4 linked regions of the Homo sapiens genome follow. The protein of the gene in region 1 purifies or fractionates together with the protein of each later gene. This does not show direct contact. Each region holds a gene or a part of one and is shown in the gene's direction. Other genes may lie near its edges. The genes, in order: SLC2A5, SLC7A3, LMBRD2 and ATP2B2.

Region 1 (7,024 bases):
ATGCTGGGATTACAGGCGTGAGCCACCATGCCCGGCCGGTCTCTGCCATCTTGCCCTGACCTGTGGGTTTTCTCTGCAGTGGGCTCAACATTTTGAAAAATACATTCCTAAAAGTTGCCACCAGTAAGCAGGTCCAATCACTTTTCTATTGACCATTAACAATACAGAATTGTTTCCAGCAGAGAAATATTAGGCTCCAATAGATAACAAATCAGTTAAAAATCCCAGCCTTTACTCTAAAGTCAGCAGTTCTCAGTTTTTGGTCTCAGACCCCTTTACACACTTAAAATTATTGAGGGCTCCAAAGAGCTTTTGCTCATGTGGGTTACATTGATCAATATTTACTGTATTAGAAATGGCAACCGAGAGACATATTAATTCATTTTTTAAAATAAGCCTATTACATGAAGAGTGGCCTTGTTTGACATTTTTGCAAATCTCTTTAATGTCTGGCTTAATAGAAGACAGCTGAATTCTCAGATGTACTTCTGGGTCAGGTCAGTTGTGATGTGGCCTGGCAAGAAGTCTCTGGAAAACTCCCATATGCTCATGAGAGAGAGAGAATGAAGAGCAGATATCATCTCTGGATTATTATGAAAATAGTTTTGATCTCACAGACACCCTTAAAAGGTCTCGGGATCCCTGGGTCCTCAGATCACGGCTTGAGAACACTGGCCATTAGGGGCATAATCCATTTGCCAACAGTTTTTCACATACCTCCAGCAAGTCAGCAAAGTGGATCATCAAGCTGTGTGCTGCTTAGACACTCATTTTAAAACCACGCATATGGCCGGGTGCAGTGGCTCATGCCTGTAATACCAGCACTTTAGGAAGCTGAGGCAGTTGGATCACTTGAGGTCAGGAGTGCGAGACCAGCCTGGCCAACATGGTGAAACTCGGTCTCTACTAAAAATACAAAAATTAGCTGGGCATGGTGGAGTAGGTCTGTAATCCCAGCTACTAGGGAGGCTGAGGCATGAGAATCGCTTGAACCCAGGATGGGGAGGTTGCAGTGAGCCGAGATCGTGCCACTGTACTCCAGCCTGGGCAACAGAGTGAAACTCTGTCTCAAAAACAAAACAAACAAACCAACACAAAAATAAAACCACCCATATGAACAAGAACCACATTGCTCACTCTAAAATGAAGTAAACAACTACCTTGACAAGGGGGGTGCCAAGATGAGTATGACTTTTACTGGAACATGCTCACAGTTCACTGATTTGTTACTAATCAACTTCTTGGCAGGAAGACTGAAGGTATTCATTGGCTCAGAGGAATTTAAACTTTTTGTTTGTTTGTTTGTTTGTTTGAGATGGACTCTTGCTTAGTTGCCCAGGCTGGAGTGCAGTGGCACGGTCTCGGCTCACTGCAAGCTCCACCTGCTAAGTTCAAGCAATTCTTGTGCCTCAGCCTCCTGAGTAGCTAGCACTGTAGGCATGTGCCACCGTGCCCAGCTAATTTTTTTGTATTTTTCATAGAGATGGGGTTTCACCATGTTGGCTAGGCTGGTCTCGAACTCCTGGCCTCAAGTGATCCACCTGCCTCAGCCTCCCAAAATGCTGGGATTACAGGGGTGAGCTACAGTGTCCAGCAGGAGGAATTTAAACTTCAAAAGCCAGGCCAGGCACGGTGGCTCATGCCTGTAATCCCAGCACTTTGGGAGGCCGAGGCGGGTGGATCACCTGAGGTCGGGAGTTCAGGACCAGCCTTGCCAACATGGTGAAACCCCGTCTCTACTAAAAATACAAAAATTAGCCAGGCGTGGTGGCGGGCGCCTGTAATCCCAGCTACTCAGGAGGCTGAGGCAGGAGAATCACTTGAACCTGGGAGGCAGAGGTTGCAGTGAGCTGAGATCGCACCACTGCACTCCAGCCTGGGCGACAAGAGCGAAACTCGCATCTCGAAAAAAAAAAAAAGCCACTTTGCTCTGATTCTCGTATCAGAACTGGCTGGCTGGGAGGTCCTAGTGGAGTCATTTTAAAGACAAAAATAGAGATTGCTTTCCACCAACGTACAGGTAACCCCATCTCTTCACAAACCTCCTGAGGTTTGACCCTTTATTAATATCCTTCACCAAGATGCTCTTGCTGCTAAGTGGCTCTTGTTAAGTGGTGAGGACACAGCCTCCCACTTCAGCTCCCAGGAGGCCTTCCTTTCCTCTGCAGCCCTTTGCCCTGGGCCTGTGAGGTGTTGCTCCCTCTTCCCACCTAGACATGCTAAGAGCTGCTTTAAAGACTGCCCCTCTTTGCTCTGCAAATGAGGAAGAATCGATATTAATGAACTGTGATGTCTCTTTTCAAATACTGAGCAGAGACATCTGTGGGTAGAATTGCCAAACAGGAAAACATGGCCTCAGGTACCCTCCTATCTCAGTTCTATCAAATACCCCGCCATCAACAGCAGCTCCAACCTCTGCTCACTCCAAACTCTGTTCCTGAGAGCCTCCCTTCAGAGACCCACGTCCCTGAGCCTCCATTTGACTCAGGATTTGGTACCTGATACTTGGACTAGTGAAACTTCCTCTCCATCCCCAGCCTCTGGATGTGCTTTTAGGAGAATTAAATAGGGCAATATATGTGAAAATACTTTGGAAGCTGCAAAATTAAATTCTGCCTATGTTTTTTTAATTGACATCAGGCAACACGTCATTCTATAAAATAGAGTAAGTTTTCCCTCCACCAGATTCAAGTATGATGGGAATATTTACAAGTTTAAATACTGGGGATTCAGAAGTAGTCCAGGCATTACAGAAATCCCAGAAATGCAGATATTCCGTAATATGTGTTGACATTTTAAATGCTTATAGAGACATATAACTTGTTCTTAAAGGTGTATGAAACTATCTCTGCATTGGTTTATTTACTGTTCCTATAAGGTAAAGCTGGGGGCTAGGGGTCCTGGGCCATACACACATACACACACATACACACATGCCATATATATACATACACATACACATGCCCTATACACACACACACACACACCCAGGCCACACACACACCCACACACACACATATATATACACATACACACACACACACACACAGAGGCCATATATATATATATGTACACACACATGCCATATATATATACACACACACACACACACCAGGCCATGTCCATATACACATACACACACACACACAGAGGCCATACACACACAGACATACACACCATATGTAAATACACACAGGCCATATATATCATGCGCGCGCACACACACACACACATATACATATTTTTAGTGGAAACGGTTCCACTATGTTGCCCAGGCTGGTCTCAAACTCCTGACCCCAAGTAATCTATCCTCCCCACTTAGCCTCCCCAAGTGCTGAAATTACAGGCACGAGCCATCACACCCAGCTGCCTTGCCTTTTATGAAACAGACCCTCCTCAAAAAGCAGAAACGTGAGTGGGTCTAGACTCAGGCCAGGGAGCGGGAAGGCCGTAGATCCAGCTGGCCAGTGTCCCCAGATGATATGGGCCAAAGCAAGGGCCCCTGTGCATGAGCTCCTTTGATCTGTTTCTCTTTCCTTAAAGTATAAAGGGCTAAGAATTAAAAGAGGTGTTTGCTTTCTCCTTTGCAGTTTTGAGAGAGTTCTGGCCCAAATAATGTTATTGCTAAGAATAGTATACTTGAAGACAGCTTGTCCCTGCCAGACTAATTTTTTCTGATGGTGTTTCTATTTCACCTCCTCCCAGGTGTATCTTCCAACGTGGTCCCCATGTACTTAGGGGAGCTGGCCCCTAAAAACCTGCGGGGGGCTCTCGGGGTGGTGCCCCAGCTCTTCATCACTGTTGGCATCCTTGTGGCCCAGATCTTTGGTCTTCGGAATCTCCTTGCAAACGTAGATGGTGAGTTCAGGACATCTCGGGAGCACCCCCACCCCTTCACCACTACCCTTGGCCCCCTCCTTGTGTTCCAAAGCCACCACCACAGGACAGGACTTTCTGCAGACTGGTCTCTTCTAACAGGCTGGATGTCCTTGGGGGGCCCATCCTGTCCCGAGCCAACATAGCAGGCCATGGACAAAGGCGCGATAAGGGACTGGCCAGCGTTTACTATCTAGTCCCTCTTAGGAGATGGATGAGGTGGCTTTGAGTGATGGGCTTCCCTGCCTGCTCAGCAGCTGTCCATATGGAGGCCCGTGGCATAGCAATGACAGCCACCAGTGTGCCAGGCTCTGTGCTTGGGGCGGACCCAGCATCAGTTCATAGGACCCTCCCAGCAACGCTGCTGCCTGGGACTCAGTGATTATCCCATTTTGCAGACCAGAAAGAGAAGTACCAGGAGTGAGGGTGGCCTGGCCCCATGGGGGAGGTGGTGAGGACATCCCAGACCCTGCCTCCACCTTCCCCAAGACAGCCTGGGGCCTGGCATGCGGCAGGTGCACAGACACCTGTAACCGGGGTTGTTTTTGCACGACTTTCCCTTTAAACTATCATCAGTCATCCCGTCAGCCAAAACATAAGCCAGTTCCCGCCAGGGTTCTACACACCGTCTGCAAGTCAGTCAAGTGGATCATCAAGCTCTGTGCTGCTTAGACACTCTCTGTAGAAAGTGCTTACCGTGAGCCAAGTGCCAAGTCTTTTTTAGTAACTCATGTATTCCTCAGAACAGCCCTATTAAGCCTGTACCAGTATCATACCCATTTTGCAGGTGCATCACAGGTACAGAGAGATTGGAAGACTGGTCCAAGGTCTCATGAGGATGCAGACCCAGCGGCACAGACCTAGGTCCCTGTTTAAGTACCACATGCTCCTGCCTCTCCTTCACTCCTGCATGTGTTGGGGACACTTACGCCAAGGCGCCGCGTTCTCATTAGGAGCTGGGACCAGAAGTGAATAAGCCAGGTTCCTGTCTCAGGGAGCTCCATAGCAGGACTCAGAACCACACACGGCCCTCTAGGCATTTGTGAAGCTCTGTGCTTCATTTTTTTGCTTTGCCTCTAGTTTTGCCTTTGCAGTACCAATGCAGCCAGCCCATGTGTCCCCTCTATGTGGAATGTTAACGATATTCCCACTGTTTCTGGTGTCCTTTCTGTAATCAGAGCTGCCGTGACCATTCCAGTTCAGGCATCCTGGTGGCCTGGCTTCTCTGGGCATAGAGCTGGGAGTGGGCAGTTGGGTCAGGCCGGGTATGCCCAGCTCCTCCAGCCCCTGCAAGACTGTCCTCTGAAGGACACGGGGACGTTCTCACCAGCACATGGTATTACCGGCCTCGTCGGTGTGGTCTGTCTGATGGGCGCAGGGGTGCGTCGCTGCTGATCCCTGCTGCAGGTGTTTCCCGAGTGTCCACCGTCGGGAGTTGCTGTTCTTAGGGCTGGGAAAGCTGTGCCCTCCTGGAGCCTGCACCCCACTCAGGATGACGGGGCTGGGGCCGGCTCTGCAGAGGGCGCCTTCGGGGTGGTGGGGAGGCCGCTGGTGCCAGCTCGCTGCCTTCCTCCCAGGCTGGCCGATCCTGCTGGGGCTGACCGGGGTCCCCGCGGCGCTGCAGCTCCTTCTGCTGCCCTTCTTCCCCGAGAGCCCCAGGTACCTGCTGATTCAGAAGAAAGACGAAGCGGCCGCCAAGAAAGGTAACGAGGGCTCTGGCGGGGGCGGCCTCCAGGTTCTGCTCCCCAGCCCTGGTCCGACGGTGCCGCTTCTCCCCAGCCCTACAGACGCTGCGCGGCTGGGACTCTGTGGACAGGGAGGTGGCCGAGATCCGGCAGGAGGATGAGGCAGAGAAGGCCGCGGGCTTCATCTCCGTGCTGAAGCTGTTCCGGATGCGCTCGCTGCGCTGGCAGCTGCTGTCCATCATCGTCCTCATGGGCGGCCAGCAGCTGTCGGGCGTCAACGCTGTATGGGCCGGGCTGCGGCTCGGGAGCTGGGGAGGGCTCGGGGGGCGCGGGGCGCAGGTCCTGGGGCGCCGGGCGTGGGTCCTGGCGCCGAGGCCGCCTCCTCCGGGCAGCCGCCCAGCCCCGCGCTTGCCTTGCAGATCTACTACTACGCGGACCAGATCTACCTGAGCGCCGGCGTGCCGGAGGAGCACGTGCAGTACGTGACGGCCGGCACCGGGGCCGTGAACGTGGTCATGACCTTCTGCGCCGTGAGTGTCCTGGGAGCTGCCCACAGCCTCCACCCAAGGCCCCTCGGGCCCCACGCCCCAGCCTCGGCGCCGCCAAAAGGGCAGCCCGTGGCCCCAAAACGTGGAGGACCAGCCGCTACTACAGAAACTCTGTGTGGGAGGTGGCCCCGCACCAGCCCCTCACACTTGGGGCTGCCGAGCCGCACCGGGCCCGGGGCCACCACCTGACCGGGATGTAGGCGTGCCTGGACCAGGCAGCGCCCACTGCTGGGTGGCTCCGAGCCCGGGCTACCCGGAGTGAGGCTCGGCCACCTCGGGATGGGAGCAGGCTCCGTGGGGGCAGCGTCTCCGGTGCATGCAGACATCTGGCCTCCCGAGGGCAGGAATCCTGAGGCTCAGGGTTGTGGGATTAGGAGGCCCTAGAGCTGAGTCTCAAGGGTGGGCAGCTGGGGTCCCGCATCACAGCCACAGCCGACTTCCCGCTGGCTGCCCAAGGGCATGTCTTGCACATGTGAATGTGAGTGTGCGTGCACATGGGTGGGCACCCGGTCCGCCCAGCTCTCCTCACAGCTGCCCCATTGGAGGGGGCTGGAGGGAGGTGAAGCTGGGCCTCTCCCGCCTGAGCCCTGCCACCCTCCTGTAGGTGTTCGTGGTGGAGCTCCTGGGTCGGAGGCTGCTGCTGCTGCTGGGCTTCTCCATCTGCCTCATAGCCTGCTGCGTGCTCACTGCAGCTCTGGCACTGCAGGTGAGGACAGGCCAGGGTCCCAGGAGCCCGGAGCTGCACCAGGAAGACCAGTGCCCCTCCCATCCTGCGCCTCCACCTGCCTTAAAATAAAAGGGGTCACAATGAGCTGTTTTAGCAAATACAACTGGCCAGACATCTGGGGACCGTGTGTCCTGCCAGCTCATAGCCCACGTTCAGCTGATTTCCCAGTGGCTCATCGAGGTGGCACT
Region 2 (7,536 bases), on another chromosome or scaffold:
AAATAAATTTAACATGCTAGCATAAATTCAGTCACAAATGGAAAAATAGAAAATCTAGAAATATATGCTAGTATATTTAAGAATTTAATACATGATAAAGTACATATCATCAAAGTCGAAGAATGAGTAATGAATTGTGTTAGACTGACTGATTTGTATTTTGGCAAAAATTCAAGTTACATATGTATATATATTTCACATTTTGTATATCAAAGGAAATTCAAAATATATTAAGAGTTATGTAGAAAAAATGGGATATCATCTAGGAAAGTGTGGTCATTTCTAAACTTTTAATTTCTTTTTCTTTTTTGAGACAGGGTCTTGCTTTGTTGATGGAGTGCAGTGGAGTGATCTCAGTTTACTGCAGCCTTGACCTCCCAGGCTCAAGTGATTCTCTCATTTCAGCCTACCGAGTAGCTGGGACTGCAGGCACGCACCACCATGCCTGGCTAATTTTTGTATTTTTAGTAGGGACAGGGTTTCGCCATGTTGCCCAGGCTGGTCTCAAACTCCTGAGCTCAAGAGATCCACCCACCTTGGCCTTCCAAAGTGCTGGAATTACAGGCATAAGCCACCGTGCCTGGCCTCAACTTTTAATTAAAAGAAAATCAAATATATGGATAATTTGAGTAGTATAAGCAATACCCATATTGTTCACCTAGATTCACCACTTTTCAACATTTGTCACATTTGCTCTGTCTCTCTCCACACACATGCACACACACATTATTTTTGCCGAGCCATTTTCAAGTTTATTACACTTCATCCCTAAATATTTAGCACATATCTCCTAAGAACAAGGACATTCTTTCCTACATAACCTCAATATTGTTATCATGCACAAGAAATTAATATTGATACAGTATCATTAGCTAATATACAGGCCACATTCAAATTTCTGCTATAGTCCCAATCATCTCCTTTATAGATGTTTTTTTAGAATTCCAATCCAAGTTCCAGCTGGGGACCATGCACTTCATAGTGTCATGACTCTCAGTCTCCTTTAGTTCCTTTAGAACAGTCCCCCTACCTAAAAAAAAAAAATCTTTCTTTTTCTTTTCTGGTTTTTTTGAGACAGAGTTTTGCTGTTGTTGCCCAGGCTGGAGTGCAATGGCATGATCTCGGCTCACCTGCAACCTCCGCCTCCCAGGTTCAAGCGATTCTCCTGCCTCAGCCTCCCGAGTAGCTGGGATTACAGGCAAGCGTCATCACACCCGGCTAATTTTTGTATTTTTAGTAGAGATGGGGTTTCTCCATGTTGGTCAGGCTGGTCTCGAACTCCTGACCTCAGGTGATCCACACGCCTTAGCCTCCCAAAGTGCTGGGATTACAAGTGTGAGCCACCGTGCCTGGCAAAAAATCTTTCAAGACATTTGCAGAACTCTAGCTAGTTGTCTTTTGTCATATAGAATGTCTTACAATCTGGATTTTTCTGGTTACATCCTCACAACTAGTTTCAGGGTTAAACGTTTTTGGCAAAAATATGTCATGGATGATATGTACTTCTCATTGCATCACATCTGCTGGCATATAATGTCAGTTTGCCCCATTATTTGTGGTGCTAAACTTGATCACTTAGCTAAGGTGTTTTCCACCAGATTTCTCCATTATAAAGTTACTGTTGTAGGAAGAATATTGGCCCCCGTGACTTTTTCCCTTGGTGCTTGTTAGAGCAGTGAATATGTTTCACTGTATGGAAAATGGGCTTTTGCAGAGGTAATTAAAGTTACCAACTGGCCAGTGCAGTGGCTCACACCTGTAATCTCAGCACTTTGGGAGGCTGAGGAGGGCAGATCACTTAAGGTCAGGAGTTCGAAGCCAGCCTGGCCAACATGGTGAAACTCTGTCTCTACTAAAAGTACAAAAATTAGCTGGGCATGGTGGCGCATGCCTGTAGTCCCAGCTGCTCGGGAGGCTGAGGCAGGCGGATCGCTTGAACCTGGGAGGCAGAGATTGCAGTGAGCCAAGATCGCACCACTGCACCAGCCTGGGCGATAGAGTGAGACTCTGTCTCAAAAACAAAACAAAACAAACAAAAAACACAAAACAAAAAACCCTAATACAGGACCTTTCCCTTTATAATTAAACTATAATCTGTTGGGTGGTATTTTGAGGTCATGTGAATATTTTGCTTCCCAACACCCAGGATCATCTATTGATTATCCTTGCCTGAATCAGTTATTACTTTGGTGAGTGCAAAATGGTGGTTTTCTTTCTTTTTTTCCCTCAACTGAATTACATTTTATTTATTCATTTTATTTTTGGCTTTATTGAAGTATAGTTGTAAATAAAAATTGTATATTTTTAAAAGTGTACAACATGATGTTTTTATATATGTATAATATAGTGAAATGATTATCATAATGAGGCTAATTAACATATCCCTCACCTCACATAATTACTATTTTTTGATGTGATAAGAACATTTATGCTCTATTCTCAGCAAATTTCAAGTATATACATGAATATACAATACTATTAACTGTATCAAGCATAATACAGTGTTATAACTATAATGACCATGCTGCACGTTAGATCCCCAGAACTTAGTCATCTTGCATAACTGAAACTCTACATCCTTTGACCAACATCTAGGCAAATTTACAGAGGCAAAAAAATTGATTTGTGGTTGCCTAGGGATACGGTGAGGGGATTGGGAGAAAATGGGGAGTGTCTGGGAATGGGTACAGGGTTTCTTTTTGGAATGATGAAATGTTCTAAAACTGATTGTAGTGATGGATACACAACTCTGTGACTGTATACTAAATCCTATTGAATTGTACTCTTTAAAAGACTGGATTTCATGGCATTTGGATTTTATCTCTGTGATAAATAATCAATCTCATAATCCAATCAATCACCTAATCTAAGCAACCAGATCATATACACTAATATATCGTTCCAAATATGTATCAAGTTTTTCTTGAGTACTTTCCATGTGCCAGGCAGGAAGACTTGACTTCATAATCTCATCTAAGCATCACAACAACCTTGTGAAATATGTATATTATGTCCAGAAACTGAGGCTCAGGGATGTTAGGTAATCCACAGTGGCTGAGCTGTGAGTTTAACCTAGGTGCAATTCCAAACACAGCACTCCTAACGTCTATGTAATAAGGTTTCAGTTGTATAGTGTGTGTTTTCTTTCCCTAGTTAGATTAGGACTAGGAGGGCAAGGATTTTATTTTATGTTTCCTTCATAGTCTCTTCATTGCTGTACCAGCTACTACACATAGTGCTCAATAAATGCTCAATAAATACTTAATGAATGCCAAATGGAGCTGCAGCTGGTTGAAAATACCAATTCTTTCAGAACGGATTTAGATTTTAGATTCATGGGTAATATATTCATCATGGATCATTAAAAGAAGCAAGGATATTTGAGTCCATCCTTAGTCCCCAAGATGTCTTGGTGGAGCAGGGACCACACTTTCACAACCTTTGGTGCTTTCTTATGAGTAAGAATTGATTGGGTCAGATGGATTATGGATCTGACCCAATGTGATCATTCGTAGATTCTTCGGGTCCTTTTCTGTTTCCTAGTATCTCCTAGCCTAAACGGACCTACCCTGCTGCTGATGCCTCTCCCTGTTTGTCTTTCCTTGTGGCCACATCCCTCTTCTTGTTCATTTGAATAAGATATGGTGCCTACGGGAGGCAGGCATTGAAGTCCAACAGGCCAGGTTTTATCAAAGGTGGTCAACAATAATTATGGTGTGGTGTCAAACAAGTCATGCCTCTGAGCCTCAGCTTACACATCAATAAAATGGAACTAAACAAGCTTCCTCCTCCAAGATGTTGGTATTGTCAGAATTTCACATTTAATAGTTTAATATTTATAGGCAGCTGGAGACACATTATAGAGAGATTGGGGCCTATAAATCAATTTAGACTGGATTAATTATCTGTATACAGGTGGCTTGAAATCATCTTCCATTCTCCTGCTGCCTGCATTAGAAACACCCACAGCTGAGCGTGAGAGCTGAAGGGTCAGGGTCAGATGTGTAGACAAGAAAGCTAAGGAAGAAAGACTGAGAGTGAGGTGGAGACTCCCCTGCTGTGTTCCGCTTCACTCCTGACACACACACACACACACACACACACACACACACACACACGCACCCAACTCCCCCCCATCACACCCCACCTACCTTCCCCATTCCTGCCCAGAATCACTGGTCCTAACAGGGCACAGAGGTGGAAAATCTCATGGGTTCTTTGGCCAGGAAGCCTCTTATTGTCCTGTTCTGACGACCAGCGAGACAAATGGGAAAAGACTGCCCTCCCCCTTTTCTCGCTCCCCGGCACGCCAGGCTTGCTAGTGAGGATGGGACGCAGTCTCAGGCCCCACGCAATCCTTTTGCAAAGCCAAGAAGTGTGTGTGTTGTGTGTGTGTGTGTGTGTGTGTGTGTGTGTGTGTGTGTGTATTGTGTGTAGCGAGGAGGATTGGGGGTGGGATCCCATGACGTTACCGGCTCCGCCTCCTGGTGTATATAAGGGGCGCTTGGCGCGCAACGACCCCAAGCCGCAGCTTTGAAGCCTGAGCGGCCGAACTCGGCAGCTCCAACCCAACTCGGCTTAACTCCGCCTCACCGAGCCCAGTCCAAGACTCTGTGCTCCCTAGGTTTGCAACAGCTCTCTGGTAAGCGTTGGGGACCCACACGTGTGTCGGAGGGGGGACGGCGAGGGTCCGGGCGTACCTAGGATTCTCTGGCAACCATGGCATGCAGTTGCATCAACGGGGCCGTGACCTGTTGCTGGCGAGACCCCCGCCCCGGGAGTTAGGGCTCCCGTCTCCACCCCAGCTCCAAACCATTTCTAGATGGGGGCAGGAAAATCTGGGACCTGAGTCGGGGGGCATCGGGTGGAACCCTTCCTCTCTGCTGAGAGGAGAGTGCGAGCAATCTCGGGCTGCCCTGGGGCCCCTCTGGGGGCGCATCTCCAAATCTTTAGATGTCGAAGCCCCGCCTCGCTGTTGATGCTTGCAGGTCAGCCTAGCAGGGCTTGGGAGGAAGTAGGGGAACATTTGCTTACTCCCCTGGGCGACAGCTGCGCTAGTTGAGCAGTGTGGGCTTGGTGAGGAGGGATGGAATTGAGTCGGTGCTCACTTTTAATCTGCAGCGAGGTTGGTCCCCTCTCCCTCTGGGGGGTCTGGGGGCTGTGTCTGTTTGAAGCCCCGGGGGAAGCCCCTGGGTGGAGCTCTGTTTAATTCCCAAATAGCCACAGGCCAAGGAACTGACACATTAGGTTTCAAGATTCCTGGGTTGAGATTAGGATAAACCCTATCAGTTTCTGGCAAGAGAAAGAGACCTAATATTGATTGAGCACTTACTAGGCGCCAGCCACTCTACTTCAGGGGGCTTTCACGTGCCATTTCTGAAATTAGCCCTTCCAAAAACCTTGTAAGGTATTGTAATTCCTACTTGTTTATGAAGAAACTGAGGTTAGAGGTAAAGTGACTTGCCTTTGTCCCTTCCATATCCCCGTCCTCATTTCCCAATAGCTCCTTTGCTTGGTGGAGGGGGTCTTGTAATTCGCTTTCAGAGTTTAGGGATAATGAGCCCTGTCGAGGGGTTTTTGTCTTGTTTTTCACCAGATCATCTTCTTCAATTCCTGCTAGGATGCCGTGGCAAGCATTTCGCAGATTTGGTCAAAAGCTGGTACGCAGACGTACACTGGAGTCAGGCATGGCTGAGACTCGCCTTGCCAGATGCCTAAGCACCCTGGATTTAGTGGCCCTGGGTGTGGGCAGCACATTGGGTGCAGGCGTGTATGTCCTAGCTGGCGAGGTGGCCAAAGATAAAGCAGGGCCATCCATTGTGATCTGCTTTTTGGTGGCTGCCCTGTCTTCTGTGTTGGCTGGGCTGTGCTATGCGGAGTTTGGTGCCCGGGTTCCCCGTTCTGGTTCGGCATATCTCTACAGCTATGTCACTGTGGGTGAACTCTGGGCCTTCACCACTGGCTGGAACCTCATCCTCTCCTATGTCATTGGTGAGATATGGTGGGGGAGGGAGGGAACTGCACAGCCAGCAAAGGGGTTTTTGGTCAGGAAATCTGGGTGGAAGTATTCTTTATATTATTCACAGGACCTCAATCTCCCTAAATGTGCGGGTTTGCTGGGGGTCTGGGGGGGGGTGTTGAAGGTGTGGAGAAATTGCTCATTCTATCCATCTCCGTCCTGGTTTCCTTAATTAAGTGAATGGTTTTGGTTCTTAAAAAGTAATAATAGGCCAGGTGCAGTGGCTCACGCCTATAATCCCAACACTTTGGGAAGCCGAGGCAGACAGATCACCTGAGGTCAGGAGTTCAAGACCAGCCTGGCCAACCTGGTGAAACCCTGTCTCTACTAAAAATACAAAAGTTAGCCGCGCAGGGTGGCTTACACCTGTAGTCCCAACTACTCAGGAGGTTGAGGCAGGAGAATCTCTTGAACCTAGGAGGCAGAGGTTGCAGGGAGAGGAGATTGTGCCACTGCACTCCATCCTGGGTGACAGAGTGAGACTTGGTCTCAAAACAAAACAAAAGTAAGAATAGGTGAAAAAGGCAGGGACTTGTGTGAGCCTGGGGTCTGGGAAGAAGGGAACTTGGCCACATGTTTCTCTCTCTGCTACACCAGGTACAGCCAGTGTGGCCCGGGCCTGGAGCTCTGCTTTTGACAACCTGATTGGGAACCACATCTCTAAGACTCTGCAGGGGTCCATTGCACTGCACGTGCCCCATGTCCTTGCAGAATATCCAGATTTCTTTGCTTTGGGCCTCGTGTTGCTGCTCACTGGTGAGGCAAAGAGCAGGGTATAATGGTGGGGGTTGGGCCAGGAGGGGCTAGTCCTTGGGGCCAGGGATAAGGATGGGGGATGGGCCTGAGAAAGGCTTAAGGGAGGTGATAATGGTGGGGAAGAAGAAAAGCTGGGAAGGAACCTAGAGGCAGGGAAACAAAGCTTGGACTGAAGACTTTCTGGGAGTCCTGAATGCATTTCTCCCACAGGATTGTTGGCTCTCGGGGCTAGTGAGTCGGCCCTGGTTACCAAAGTGTTCACAGGCGTGAACCTTTTGGTTCTTGGGTTCGTCATGATCTCTGGCTTCGTTAAGGGGGACGTGCACAACTGGAAGCTCACAGAAGAGGACTACGAATTGGCCATGGCTGAACTCAATGACACCTATAGGTTAGATGGTCACTCTTAGGAGCTGCAGAGCTGGGAAAATGAAGGGGAAGAAGGGGATCTGCTGAAGGATTCTGGATGGGGATGGGAAAAAATGGGAGGCTGGGCTTTGAAGACCTAGCTAACTGGTTTGGCATTAGAGAAAAGATACAGAGTTGGCTGAACACACCCTTACCTTCTCCAACCCTTCTTCCACTCTAGCTTGGGTCCTCTGGGCTCTGGAGGATTTGTGCCTTTCGGCTTCGAGGGAATTCTCCGTGGAGCAGCGACCTGTTTCTATGCATTTGTTGGTTTCGACTGTATTGCTACCACTGGTAACACAGTCATTCCATTCTGTTTGGGGCTTGGGCACAGTGTGTGCCCAGGCTGTATGCAG
Region 3 (7,024 bases), on another chromosome or scaffold:
AATGCATGTTTTTCTCTAACTAAAGCCTAAGCATGGGGAGGCTAATAAGAGAGGAGGCCACAGAGTAGTTGGGGAACAGATATTGTCATTCTCCAATGTTTGGATTTGGGGCCAGGCGCGGTGGCTTATGCCTGTGAAGCTGAGGTGGGTGGATCACCTAAGGTTAGGAGTTCGAGACCAGCCTGGCCAACATGGTGAAACGCCATCTCTACTAAAAATACAAAAAGTAGCTGGGCATGGTGGTATGCACCTGTAATCCCAGCTACTCAGGAGGCTGAAATGGGAGAATTACTTGAACTCAGGAGGAGGAGGTTGTAGTGAGCCGAGATCATGTCACTGCACTCCAGCCTGGGCAACAGAGCAAGACTCCATCAAAAAAAAAAAAAAAAAAAACGAAAGAAAAAAAAGTTGGGATTTTGACCTAAAGGTAAGATTTCAATCTGGGAAGAAGCATGATAAGATTTTTGGTTTAGAAAGATGAATTTGATGGCAGTATAAAGCATAATTCTTGGGGAAGTGAGACTAGAAACCATTTCAGAGACTGTTTGGTAATACAGTCAAGAAATGATTATGGTCTAAAATAAGGCAGTTGTCCTGGAGATGAAGAGAAAAGGATTTATTTGAAGGACTTTAGGGTATAATAAATAGGAAAGGGCTAAAGGCTTAGTTAAAACTAGGAAATAGGATTCTGTAAAGGGATTTGGATGCTTGCTTACCATAGAGTGGAAGAAGTTTACAGAATAGAAAGACCTGGCAAGACGGGAGAGTGCTTAAAAGAAGAGGAGTCACAAAGTCATAGGATGATGAATTAGAGAGAATCTAGCATGTATTGGGCAATTGCGATTTGCTGAATGAGTGAGAGAAAAGATGAAGAGATTTGCATTTGGGACAGAGTCCAAGCTTACAAAAATGTAAATATGATAGAATTGGCTTGCATTAAGTTTTCAGAAAGAACTATAGCATAAAGCTGTTGTAAATCTACTTGGACTCCTCTGAACAACATTGTGAAAATTTGGTTTGTTTATATAGAAATCCCTATCCACATAGAGAAGGGAGAGTTAGTTTTCTTTATCTGCTGTCTGGTATGATAATCATTAGCCACACGTGGCTATTGAGCACTTGCAACATGTTGAAATGGTAATATTTTGGATATATTGTGTTTAAATATATTAAAATTAATTTCACTTGTTTCTTTTTACTTTTTAATATAGCTACTAGAAAATTTCTAATTAAATATCGGCTAGTGCCGATGTTGGCTAGTGCTACCCATACTCTTGCCTTATGGTAAAAAGACACACCTTTTTTTAAGAGTTTGAGCTGATTACACATTAAAGTCCTAGCCAAGAAATGAGGTTTACTGTAAAACCAACTCAAACTACTTTTGTTAATAAACAGTTTCACCATTGTGATACCATAGTTAAATGTTAATTCTGAGTTACACTAATGAAATGTTTGCACTGTGTCTGCTTCTGAGCTTAGAGAGCTTCTTAGCTAACTACAAGCCTAGAGAACTTTTCCTTGCTATATTCTATTATACTGCTTATAATTTTAATCTGATTTTAAGGAACCATGTAGTTATCTTTTCTTATGTTCTTTGTCTTCAGATTCCTTGGAATTTTGATTTTTCTTTCTGTACCTCCATAGACTGTGACCCATAAGTTAAAAGACAGTAGGGAAGTAGACATTTTTCCCCCTTCCTTTGCAGCTGCATTCAAATATACCAGGGCTAATAACAGGACTGAAAGGGACCGGATAGAACTTCTCCAAGATGCAGAACCTTTGGATTTTAATGCAGAAACATTCACTGATGATCCTCTTGAATCTGAATCAGGAAGGTAAGTTCTGGCTGTGACATTTTAGCTCTAGCATTCCTCTACACTTTTAATAACACATTGACTTGACAAGATTGAAAATAAGTAAGTAAAGGTGAAAGTAAACAAGTGATAAGTAAAGGAAAATGTTCATTTTCACTAACAATAAAAAATATATTAAGTAACTTTTGATACCTTTTTAGACTTTCTAATGCTTTTATATCATCCAGTAATGGTAACTAAAATTGTTATCTTCATACAATACTAGTGGTATTATAAATAAGAAAGAATAATTGAAATATATAGCAAAGGATCACAACAATATTTATATGCCTATTTCTGATTGTCCCATTTGTGAAATTTATTATATTTAGTAACTGCTGCATAGCAGTGTCTAGATGCCAGACACTATTCTAAGTCCTTTAGCAAAAATATTGTAATTGTATGGTTGCAAATTCAGCTGGATTTAAATCCAGAGAGGCTCAGTAAAGTGCCCAGAGTCACACAACTTGTAAATGGCAAGTCAGGCATTCAAAGTCCAGTATTCTGGCTACAGAGTCTGTACTTTTAGCCATTATGCTATAAGCACATAATTAAATAAAAGCAAAATATCATGTGCACGAAAATGTTTACTATAGTATTGCCTATATGCAGTAAAAACCTAGGTTATATTTATTTGCAACAATTGAGAGTGGTTATTGAATTGATTAATCTCCCAGATGTGTCTTACATCCCCTGCCCCCTTCTTTTTACATCTCTCACTCTGTCATGCATATATTCTAGGGTCTAAAACCGTTGCTGGTTGATTTATAATTAAGTCCTTTTGGATAATATACTTGGAGGGTAAGTTTCTGCTTTCAGCTACTGACTAGATTTTACAGTACTTACAAATTATATGGCCACTCCCTTTTAATGTATTCTTGTTTTCCTCTCTTCCTTTATTATTTTTGATGCCTCAGATCATTTCTTTATGTTCCCTTTTTAGGTATCAGCCTGGTGGACGATATCTCTCGATGTCTCGCAGTGACATATTTAATGATGTTTAAAGTCTGAAAAAGTTTGTGGGACCACTAACCAAGGTCAACACATCAGTTCAGTCTTGATGAACATCTGTGTACCCTAGAATTTCCTCTATACACAGTGAAAAGTGTCAAGATAACAAAAAAGGCACTGAGAATTAATTATATCTTAGGAATAATAGTTTAATGTGCATTGAATAGAGTATCACCTTTTTCAACAAGATTTATTACATATCATTTCCTAAGCATCTGCCTTAGAAATACAGTTACAGTGGAAGGACTTTAAGAAAGATCAACATATGTTAAGAACATGCAGTTCAGTTTGTTTCAGATTAATTTTTTTTCAAGAGAGTTATTTTAAAGATTCAAGGAAGCCATAAGTCATACTAAATAATATTATATACAGTTTTGTTATTGTGACTTACATTTTTGTTACTTCTAAAAAGTATATTCAACCTGTATTTCCCAAAGAAATGTAAGTGAATGGAGACCTCAAATAATAACTGTATTCATAAAACTCGTGTCTTAAAACAAGGCTTACTTACTAGACATAACTGAATGTAAAAAGTGCTTTTTCAAATCTGTTTGCAAACTCGTGGGGGATTTTTGCATGTATAAGATTAAGATTATACTTCAAGTGATGCGTGTCTGTGTATTTAGCATGTGTACTATAATCAGGTGATATAGTATTCCTTCAGTCTTTGTAGTAACTGGATTTTTTTATGCTTCTGGTATTGCTTTATAAAAGATTTTCATTTCAGAAAGCTATGTTCACATTTATCATTTAACATATTGATTTAAATGTTGATTATGATATTCAAGGATAAATCCTAGGCATTAATGAAAAATAGTTTTTTTTTAAGTAGTCAAAGAGTCCAACAAAATCCTTCAGTATTTAAAGGTACCTGCTTATACTTTTTGAGAAAAAAACTGGTTATTCAAAGGTAAAAAGTGAATCCATTTACTGTTATTACTGATACTTAAATCGTGGTTTATAGAAAACAAAACTATATTAGAATGGAAATGTGTAATAACTTGTTGGTTAAACATTCTTACTAAATAGACTGTTTTTAACCTTTGTGTTTAAGATAAATTTATGTATTATATTTTAAAGCACTAGTGTTTTATTGAAAAGTGAACATGTTTGATTGCAGCATGCTTGCAGAGAGTTTTCTTATGTCCCTAGAATATTTGCAACTCTTACTGAATCCATGCTACATTTGGTGACCATACTTCAGCTTGCCTAATACAGTCTCAGTGTAACACCTAGTATCCTGTTTATTACTAGTGATTACTTTCACCCTCAAGTATCCCACCCAGTTTGAAGATGAATTATATGGTTCCCCTAACTTGAAGTTAATCTTTCCCCAAGACATAAATTTAAAATTTTTATTTTTATTTTTAATAAATATTATCATGTAAGTTTTTTTTTAAAACACAGCTCTATGCAGATATTGAAAGGAATAGAGCATCATCCTCATTATCTGAAAATTTTGATCTTTGAGTTTTTATGATCTTTGCAATTAGATCCCTTTTAAAATAATTATCAGTGGATAGACTTACTCTGAATTGAAGGTCATATAGACTACACTTAAGAACACACACATACAGTCTTTTCATGTGAAGTGTGGCCAGAAAGCAATAAGCCAGGAGCAGAGATAATTTGATCCTCTTTGTAATTTAATGATTGACTAATTGAATACCTTTGGCAAATCATGTAGCTCTTCAGTGCCTCAAGTGCTTCATTCTGCACTTTCATTTGCAGAATGAAGATGATACTTGCTATTTACCTGCTGATCTACCTTACAAAGCCATTGTGAGGAAGTTGAATTGGTGTTTATGTACTGGAGTTTATAACTGTGCTATTTTTCCTAGTGATACTTGAAGGTATTGGATGGGGAAATGATCATCCCAGAAATGGGTCCAGTTTCTTATTATTACAGAAAAGTTTACAAGTACTTAAAGCAAAAACGCTTTTGGACTAATTCATCAAAAGTCCTGTGAAAGTAGTGTTGTTTTATTTAGTCTTTGGGTTTACTTTGGAATAATTTCTTAAGTATAATGTTTCTCATCAGGTTTTGTCATGAAATTAAGATGCTGTTGTTGAAACAGAAGCAGAAAAGGAAAAGAAATTAGCCAATTACTTTTATAACTAACTTTTATAATGCCCTAAGATAAATTGGTAGGAACGTGTAAGGTAATGTTACCACTTTCCTTTAGTATTAAATTTTTTATGGTTATAATAATTGAAGTGTATACGTGCATACACTTCACAACCGGTATAGATTCCTTTATGACTTTCAAGTTATATTTAAAATATTTGGTTGTTTCAGTGATTCAGAATATTCAACTTTAAGCAGAATTTGTCTTACAGAATGTTATATACAATCATATAAAAATGTTATTTTGTTGGATAAATTTGAGTTCAGAAGGCAATGACTTGACCCTGGAAGACTCAGTTTATTGCTGGGGAACCAAGTTAATATTTGTCAAGCCACCCTGTGTAAAAAACTGTAATGGGTAGAAGTTTTCTCTTTTGAGAAGCTTATTGAAATATAATGACATCTACTGCAAAATAGGACTACTAAATACATATACTTTACATGCAAAGTACATTTCTTAAAGAATTATTTCTGGTAATTTTTGATGACTTTATTACTTGATAATAAGTATTAGTTTAAAATTTTCCAAATTATTCTTTAAATAGTTGTTAGGTAAGAATATTCAGTAAGCCAGTAATTCAGAATAACTATTGTAGAAAATAATAATAATCTATTAATTTAATGAATCACCTCTAAATTACTAATTAACTTCTTTTACAACATAAATAACTTGTTATCAATAGAGCATTTTTGTAAAAAACAAAAGAAAGAATAAGTTTAATTATTAAAATTTGCTCTCTTACCAAATGAATACAAGGGCTTTTGAATAATCTCATTGCATAAGAGGCCCTCATTTCACAGAAATGGTAAGAACTAAATCAAAAGATTCAAGGGTTTTCCCTTTATAAAGAATAGATCAGAAAATTTGACAATCCAGACATTCAAAAAAACATTCTGCCAGTTGATTTTTTTGGACTACTATTTGATTAGATGATCAGTTCTGAAATTTAAGCTGCATGTATGCCCAAATTAAATTAGCATAGGAAAGTCAATGTGTGTGGTTTTTTAAAAGTATATTTTAGCATATTAATGGAGCAATTTAATTTACATTCAGTTACAAACCTCATTCTTATTAATAGGTTTAGGGAATGTTCTTGCTGGTGTGCTGATTACCATATTAGAGAAAAAATAAACTCTCCATATTATAATTCACCTGTTTAGTAAGGTGAGTTTCTTACTTGTGATTTGAGTGGATTATGCCTAAAAATTACAAGTATATTTGCACTAAGCGACAAAATATGTCCCTGAAAAATCTTAGCGTACTTGAATCATCAAATGTAATGGATTGTATTGAATTCTAAATGTTAAGAAGTAAGTGGATTTAGGGTTTTGTCTTTCTTTTCTTATGTCCTCTCTCATTCCTTTATACCTTTCTTCCTTTCTGAGGCCTATGTTTATAGCATGACTTTTAATGTGCTGAAAGATTTTCCTTCTGTTTTGTGTACAGAGTTGTTTTTGATGAGTGGTACGCTCAGAAGGAACTAGTTCTGACTACAAATCCCACTACTTGAAATAGCAATATTGTACCTAAAGTAGTCAAACAGATTTTGCTAGACAACTAAGCAACATCTGAATACAAATGTAAAGTATGCTGGCTCAGTGTATCTTTTAGGTCACTAAAGAGGACACATCAGTAAATAAATTGTTTTCAGTGTAATATTTTTACATAAAAATAGATTTCCCCCCCAAAATTTAAGATTTATTTAGATTCTTGAGACATCTTTTTATGAAAAGGAATTAATAACATACATCATCAAAACTTTTCTTAGGAGCGTTGAAACAATATAAGAAGGTTACAGAAGGCCTTCTAAAATATGAATTCCCATCTGTATGAGGTACTTCTTTCCAACTCAGTGACTTTTTGCCCAGAGACTTGGAAGACTGGGCAATGTTTTCTTTCCCCTTTCCCAACTCCTGGAGACAAGGCCCTAGGAGCAATTTCCTCCAGTAGGGCAGGCCGTAGTCCTGCTCTGTCTTACTTCCCACTGCAGCAGGAACATGTCCTCGCCTCTGATTCCTTCTGTACCAAGCC
Region 4 (7,024 bases), on another chromosome or scaffold:
TCATGCCTGTAATCCCAGCACTTTGGGAGGCCGAGGCGGGTGGATCACTTGAGGTCAGGAATTCGAGACCAGCATGGCCAACATGGAGAAACCCCATCTCTACTAAAAATACAAAAATTAGCCGGGCGTGATGGTGCGCACCTGTAATCCCAGCTACTTGAGAGGCTAAAGCAGGAGAATCACTTGAACCCAGGAGGCGGGTGTTGCAGTGAGCTGAGATCACGCCACTGTCCTCCAGCCTGGGCAACAACGAGACTCCATCTCAAAAACAAAACAAAACAAAACAAAAAGGATACAGGACTGCATCAGACACCCTATCAGCAGCGTCTACACAGCAGTGCCCTGCCATGTGACAGCTCAGGTGTTAGAATGAAGCCACATGGGAGGGTCCAGAGCCAGCCTAGCCCAGAAGTCCTGGGCTCCATATAGGAATTGGCATCTCTAGTAACAGCCCCATGAGCTTGTAGAGGTCTCAGCAAGGGACATGCTCAGGAACAAGAAGCAGCACTCTCGGGGCAGCGCAAAACCTCCCGCAGGTATCCTGTCCTCGCAGTCCAGAATGAGTTTTCCAGTCTGAGGTCACTTTTTAGAAGCCATGTCGCCCACCTTTAACACAGCCGGCCGTCCACCTTTATCGGGTTTCCACAGAAAAAGTGGAAGACAGTTGCCCAAGGCCTTTCTTCCCCAGAGGAGAAAGGGCTTTGCTGACCCTTCAGTCCTAGTCTCTGACCAGCTGACAGCACAGCCCTGGCCCCCCACTGTCCAAGCATGCCTTGATGTCTTGGGGATTCACGTCACTGCTCAGAAGAGGCCCCCACGAAAGGCCAGGCATCTCCCCTCTGATTCCCCCACCACTGCCTTCAGCCCAGCCCCACTCTCTCACTTGGCAGGCGAGAAGATGTTCCAGATCGACAGCGGGAGGAACGCGCCCCTGCATTCGCCACCCTCAGAACATTACACCATCATCTTCAACACCTTCGTCATGATGCAGCTCTTCAACGAGATCAACGCCCGCAAGATCCACGGCGAGCGCAATGTCTTTGACGGCATCTTCCGGAACCCCATCTTCTGCACCATCGTGCTGGGCACCTTTGCCATCCAGGTAGTGAGGCCCCCACCCTAACCAGGCCCGGGGTGGGCAGCAAGCGGCTGGAGCCCCTGGGCAGGACCCTGAGAGCCCAGCCCTCTGTGCTGGTCCCTGATGGCCTCTCTCTCTCTCTTTCTCTGCTCCCCTGTGACCTCCAGATAGTGATCGTGCAGTTTGGAGGGAAGCCATTCAGCTGCTCTCCACTGCAGCTGGACCAGTGGATGTGGTGCATATTCATTGGGTTAGGAGAGCTCGTTTGGGGCCAGGTAAGTTCCTGGTAGGTCGCAGGAGGTGCCTGTTAGCAGGGCAAGGGAGACAGCACTGGATGGAGAATCCAGGACCCCCAGGAATGGGCTGCCAGACCCCAGGCAAGCTCCTCCCTATCTCTGGACATCTGAGCAAGGGGGTTTGTCCCAGGTCCTATACTGGTCGTCTGGGTACTACTGCTCTGATTTTTGCCTTATATCTATCTACCACTGCTCCTGTTGTTTATGTAATATTTTCTCTCAATCACGTCAGCTTTTTTAACTTAAATTTGTTTTTAAAGGCAACGTCCTGTTACTAAGACAACTGAAAAATCAGTATCACTTGTCATAAATGGAAGCTAACAAAAACATTAATGTAATGAGAATGACATTATTAAACTCCAGCTAGAAGCCATGGCCTGCCAGGGATTCAAGGCTGGAGCAGCTTGTTAGGAAGGGAGATGAATCAGTGGTCTGCGGGCGCTGGTGGCCGGCTGGCGTCAATCAGGATCCTTTAGAGCACTCAGAGGGAACGCAAGCAGGACACACTCTGCCACATTGCGGTGTTACTCAGTGCTGTGCCTGTGGCCATCTGTGGCCTCAGTGCTGTGCCTGCCCCAGCTCTGGGGCTCCTTGGGCTGGATGCTCTTTAGGGGCCCTTCCAGCTTTGTCCCAGAATATTCTCCCACCAATTCGTTTTTCTACGTTTGCCCAAGTTCCAGACCCTGTCACAGCTCTGAGAGCATGCAGCCCAAAGGCTCCTGACCCAGGACACAGGGCTTGGGAGGAGGGCCCAGAACCAACTCAGGGCCTAAGGGGCCTGATTCCCAAGGTGCTCACACATCCAGGCAGTGGGACCCCATGGGTGGGAGGCATTTTTCTTGCCTTCAAGCTGTCTGCAGGCTAGAGTGAGAAGCTACGGGGGCAAAAATTAACTAAAAGATAAATAAGAAAGTTTAGTTTCATCCAAAAGGACTTCCTGTAACCTTTGGGGCTGCTTTGGAGAGTGATAAACCCCTGGGCACCCTGGGGGCCAGGCCATCTTTATCCCACTGGGGCCCACCCCCTACAGGAGGCTCTTGGGGGCTGGGCCCAGTAACTGAGGGAAGGATTCAGAGGACAAAGGTTAATGCCAGCGGGCAGTGCTGACTTTACACTCCCAGGGAGCCCCCTGAGGCTGCATTCATGCCAGCGCCTGACTGCTCCTACAGGAAATGGAAGGGGCCTCTGATATCTGCCACCGCAGCTTTCCTGTAGGGCCTGCGTCTGGGTCCTCAGCCCCATGGACAAGCCTTTTGGGGAAGATTAGGAATGAAGGCATAGCTCTTTCCCATTCTGCCTTCCCAGTCCAGGATTGGCTGCCTTCAGGGTCCAGTGACCTCAGGAGGAATAAGGGACAGAGGAATAAGTAACCCCAGGAGAACCGAGGGCCAGCCACGGGCCAGGCTCATGCAGGACGAGTTAGACCCTCCACCGTGCCCAGTTCTCACCATGCCCAGAGCGGCCCCCACTTTACAGCTAGGAAAACCAAAGCTCGGTGAGGTTAAATGACTTGCCCGAGGCCACAGGACCAGGGTTGTCTGGGGTATTCAAAGCCACATCTGTCCAACTCCTAGAGGCCAAGATTGTCCACTATGTACCCTGACTCTGAATGAATGAATTAAAAAGCAAATTGCACTCCAGCCTGGGCAACAAGAGTGAAACTCCATCTCAAAAAAAAAAAAAAAAAAAAAAAAGACATTGTCAAAGACTGGGCTGAGGAACAGGTGAGGTGGGTGAAGGAGTAGATTGATCACATGCCTGGGTGAGCGGGTAGGAGGAGGGAGGTAGAGGAGCGGGTGTCAGGGAGAGAAGGCCACTGGGAAGGACAGCCCCACCGTCCTGACAGACAGGGTCCCTTGCAGGTCATCGCCACCATCCCGACCAGCAGACTCAAGTTCCTCAAGGAGGCAGGCAGGCTCACACAGAAGGAGGAGATCCCGGAGGAGGAGCTCAACGAGGACGTGGAGGAGATCGACCACGCGGAGCGGGAGCTGCGGCGGGGCCAGATCCTGTGGTTCCGAGGCCTGAATCGGATCCAGACACAGGTACAGGAGGCTCTTGGGGGCTGGGCCCAGGCCTGGCCGGGGCGGGCCAGGGGATGGAGGTGAGTGTGCTTGTGCTGCCCCCCAGGGCCCAGCTCTGGTGCTGAGGGAGGGTGGCTACAGAGGGGTCCCGGCCAGCTCTCACCAGCCACTTGCACACCCACTCCTGTGGCTGCTAAGGAACAGCACGGCCTCCTCAGAGAGGTCCCATTGTGCCCTCTCAGGGCAGCACGGGGAAGTGGTAGGGGTCACACCCACCATGGTCTCCAGGGGGATTTCCCTGAGAGGGTGGGGAAGGGTGGCTCTGAGGGCAGAGGTGAGTGAGGGGACTGTCGCTCAGGGCTGGGGGCACCCACCCACAGGGGCCGTGTGAGGCTGGACAGAAGCTGCAGGCCAGGTCGCCCAGGGTCCCCCAGGGCGTGGTGGTCAGGGGGTCCGCCGCCTCCACGGGGGCTTCAGTTGCTCTCCCCAGCTTCCCCTAGGGGGTGGAGAGGCTCTGGGGAGCAAAGGTCAGTCATCCTCAAGCACACACAGACACACATGCACACACCAAGCACACCAGGGGAGCACAGGTGCAGGGCGTAGCCAGCCAGAAGCAGGTTTCTTCCCCAGAGCAGAGAGAGCATGGCTGCCACGTGGCACACGACACACCTGCGCGCCTCCCCCGACCCCCCCACACACATACCACATGCTCTCACATGGTCCCCTTATGCCTGGAGCAGGTGTTGTAGCTCACAAGTGCTGTCACAGCCCTGCGAGGGGAGGGTCAGAAGGGACTCTGTGGGTCTCTTGCCCAGACCATCTGGGGAGCTGGAGTGGGAGCTCCTCCATGCCCCAGCATGCTTGGGCGAAGTGCAGTGTAGAAGCAGCCACCTGGCCACCATCCTGCCAGCTGTGGCCCAGCACCTCATTTCCATCCGATGTAGCAGAGAGCTCACCTGGGTCACCTCCCACCCCTCTGTACCCTGTCCCAAACCTCACCTCATGTGACCTTCACAGCCCTGGGAGGTAGATGTGACTCCCCCAGTTTTAGAGGTTACCAAGGTCCAGGAGATGGCCCCTTCTACTGAGCTGGCACAGCTGGGGTGGGGACTGGAAGCCGGTTTCAGACCCGGAGGTGCCTGACACGGGCCTGGGCTCACCCTCCCTGGTTAGGGCCCCGCAGCCACCCCTCCCAGCCTGCCCCCACCTCCTGGGAGGTCCAGGACAACTCAGTGAATATGTCCCTGGTGCTGTCACTGCCCTGGCGGCAAAGCCACGCAGGGGTCTCCAGATTACGGGAGGAAGCAAGGACTGCGATTTCTTGAGTGGGCAGGGGCGCCTGTCTTGCCTGCCTCTTGCGGAATGCTAACACGGGTCAGGTGCTTTGCCACTTACAGATAACCCTGCCAGGCAGGTGGCATTGACCCTTCTTAAGAACAAGAAACTCGACTCAGAGAGGTGGCTTGCCCAAGGTCAGCTAGCTAGTAAGTGACAGAGCTGGAATTTAGGCCAAGCTCTGTCCACCTCAGGACCCCCACCACACCCTCTACCTCCACGCCTGTACCTGAGGGAGGCTGAACACTGCTCTCTTCCCTCCAGATACCATGTTTAATCACTGCCTCCCCCACTGGCCAGCCCACTGGCCCCTGAGCCACTAGCACAGGACAAAGGCCGGACCCCCTGTGTCCTCCCGGGGACCCTGGGGCCTGCAGGTGGGCCCAGAGCTGAGCAGACGTTTTTCAGAGCCTTGGAGTGTGTCTGGTATTTTTGTTTTGATTTAAGTGACATTGTCGTTGTTGCCGTGGCTGCGGCTGTTCTTGTGACGTTGCCCTGTCAGTCATGTAGCCGTTGTGCTCGTTCTTCTCGCAACTTGTCTCGTTCTCTCCTCCGTTGCAGATTGAAGTAGTCAATACTTTCAAGAGCGGGGCCTCCTTTCAGGGGGCCCTGCGGAGACAGTCCTCGGTCACCAGCCAGAGCCAGGATGTAGCCAATCTCTCTAGCCCTAGTCGCGTGTCGTTGTCCAATGCTCTTTCCTCTCCGACCAGCCTTCCTCCTGCTGCAGCCGGGCGTGAGTGTGACTCCTTACTGCCTCCGGCTGGCACTGCCCACGCCAGCTCCCAGGCGGGCAGGGGCTGGGGCACCAGAGGACATGGGGGGCAGCCGGTCACAATCAGGCCCAGGGGGATGAAGGGTCCCAGCCACCGAAGAGGGTCCCGTTGGTCAGGAGAGCGTAGCCAGTCATGCGGTGGCAGTCACTCAGTGGACCAGGGTCAGTCAGAGGGTCATTAGGGTCCCAAGTGGCCAAAAAGTCTGGTTCAGTCAAGGGGTCACCCTTGGTCAAGAGGACATCAGTGACCAAATGGTCCCAACCCACCACAGGGTCCCGGCAGCCAGAGGGGGACAGACATGGAGGGGACACAGAGTGTCCCACTGGCCTAGGGTCATATGTGGTCAGGAAAAGCCTGGACCACCAAGGCAAGGGTTGGAGTTGGACAAGAGGTCCCAGTCTTGCAGTCAAAGTCAGCAGAAGGGTCACTGTGGGTCAAGGGGAGCAAGCCCCTTAGGGTCCCAGTCAGTCACATTGGGATCCACCCAGGAGAGGGTCACGTCAACCAGACTTTCCCAGTTGGTCAGGGGGCACCCACAGTAATGAGGGTCATGGTCAAGGGGGACAGTTGAGCCAAGAGGTCACTGCAGGTCAGAGGTCATAGTCAGCCAGGGATCCCCAGGCCACCTAGGAGCTCACAGCCTAGACGCTGCACCCCAGCAGTTCAGAGTCTCTGCCCGCTTCCTGTCACTCCTCCCCTTGCACTTTTGACTGCATCAGCTGCCCTGCAGACACCTTTCCCTGTGGCTGAGCTTGGAACTTGCTGAAGTTCTAAGCCCTTCCTGGAAAGGACAAGGTCCCTGGCCCATTCAGCTTGACCCCTGGTAGAAAATGGTGGGTCGAGCCTCACATCTTGCCTGGGTGCCAGCAGGCCCAGAGGGACCTGATATGCCCTTCAGCATCCTGCCCTCCTTTATCTGAGAGATAGCCTGGGACTGTGGCCCCTCCTTCATCTCCCTCCTGCCAAGCTCATCTCCTCATGCCACCACTTCTGATCTAGATCACTCATTGCTGGCTTTGTCTAGCTCTTTCCCGGACCCATGGCTTCGGGCCCCATAGGGAACAAGTCTGTCTTTCCTCCCATCGCCCTGCTATGTTTCCAGTCAGGCGCTTCTGATCTGCAGGGGAGCCCCTGGTTCTGGTCTTCTCCAATTGGCATAGTGTCAGTCTTAGCCTCCAGCTTCTTTGATGAGAAGTAGACTCCAGCTCACCCCTTGAAACTTTATAAAGGGCCTCTACCCCCATCCAAAACCAGAACACCCACAACACAACCCCTGCAGCCAAGCAGGTAACCCGGTGTGCTGGTGGGAGCGCCTCCCTCAGTGCCTCCAGTAGGAGGCGCGGGCCACAGGGAGCCTGTTGATGGCAAATGTCCACGACCCATAGCGGCAGGACAGAAGCAGAAAGCAGGGAAGGAGCCTCTCAGTGCTCATTCGTCAGCACAGAAACGCAGTGCTGGGGAGGACCGGGGAGCCAAGATGAAATGGAGATGCATTTCAGCAGATGGTGGCTGAGTCAC

What was found.
Region 2: the proteins of SLC2A5 (region 1) and SLC7A3 purify together in Homo sapiens (affinity purification with mass spectrometry; 2 studies listed by BioGRID and IntAct, with this or other methods). This does not show direct contact.
Region 3: the proteins of SLC2A5 (region 1) and LMBRD2 purify together in Homo sapiens (affinity purification with mass spectrometry; 3 studies listed by BioGRID and IntAct, with this or other methods). This does not show direct contact.
Region 4: the proteins of SLC2A5 (region 1) and ATP2B2 purify together in Homo sapiens (affinity purification with mass spectrometry; 2 studies listed by BioGRID and IntAct, with this or other methods). This does not show direct contact.

What each region holds. Positions count from the first base shown.
Region 1 is NC_000001.11:9,038,619-9,045,642, reverse strand, and holds part of SLC2A5 (solute carrier family 2, facilitated glucose transporter member 5), read left to right. Parts: intron 1-3,705; coding exon 3,706-3,858; coding exon of another isoform or gene 3,859-4,022; exon of another isoform or gene 4,023-5,453; coding exon 5,454-5,579; intron 5,580-5,655; coding exon 5,656-5,843; intron 5,844-5,980; coding exon 5,981-6,091; intron 6,092-6,713; coding exon 6,714-6,815; intron 6,816-7,024. UniProt on the Homo sapiens protein: Functions as a fructose transporter that has only low activity with other monosaccharides. Can mediate the uptake of 2-deoxyglucose, but with low efficiency. Essential for fructose uptake in the small intestine.
Region 2 is NC_000023.11:70,928,083-70,935,618, reverse strand, and holds the start of SLC7A3 (cationic amino acid transporter 3), read left to right. Parts: upstream 1-4,522; 5' UTR 4,523-4,642; exon of another isoform or gene 4,643-5,596; 5' UTR 5,597-5,621; coding exon 5,622-5,991; intron 5,992-6,616; coding exon 6,617-6,775; intron 6,776-6,985; coding exon 6,986-7,163; intron 7,164-7,361; coding exon 7,362-7,474; intron 7,475-7,536. UniProt on the Homo sapiens protein: Uniporter that mediates the uptake of cationic L-amino acids such as L-arginine, L-lysine and L-ornithine. The transport is sodium ions- and pH-independent, moderately trans-stimulated and is mediated by passive diffusion.
Region 3 is NC_000005.10:36,099,879-36,106,902, reverse strand, and holds part of LMBRD2 (G-protein coupled receptor-associated protein LMBRD2), read left to right. Parts: intron 1-1,705; coding exon 1,706-1,835; intron 1,836-2,796; coding exon 2,797-2,857; 3' UTR 2,858-7,024. UniProt on the Homo sapiens protein: Recruited to ligand-activated beta-2 adrenergic receptor/ADRB2, it negatively regulates the adrenergic receptor signaling pathway. May also regulate other G-protein coupled receptors including type-1 angiotensin II receptor/AGTR1.
Region 4 is NC_000003.12:10,334,571-10,341,594, reverse strand, and holds part of ATP2B2 (plasma membrane calcium-transporting ATPase 2), read left to right. Parts: intron 1-890; coding exon 891-1,102; intron 1,103-1,245; coding exon 1,246-1,353; intron 1,354-3,236; coding exon 3,237-3,419; intron 3,420-5,294; coding exon of another isoform or gene 5,295-5,466; intron 5,467-7,024. UniProt on the Homo sapiens protein: ATP-driven Ca(2+) ion pump involved in the maintenance of basal intracellular Ca(2+) levels in specialized cells of cerebellar circuit and vestibular and cochlear systems.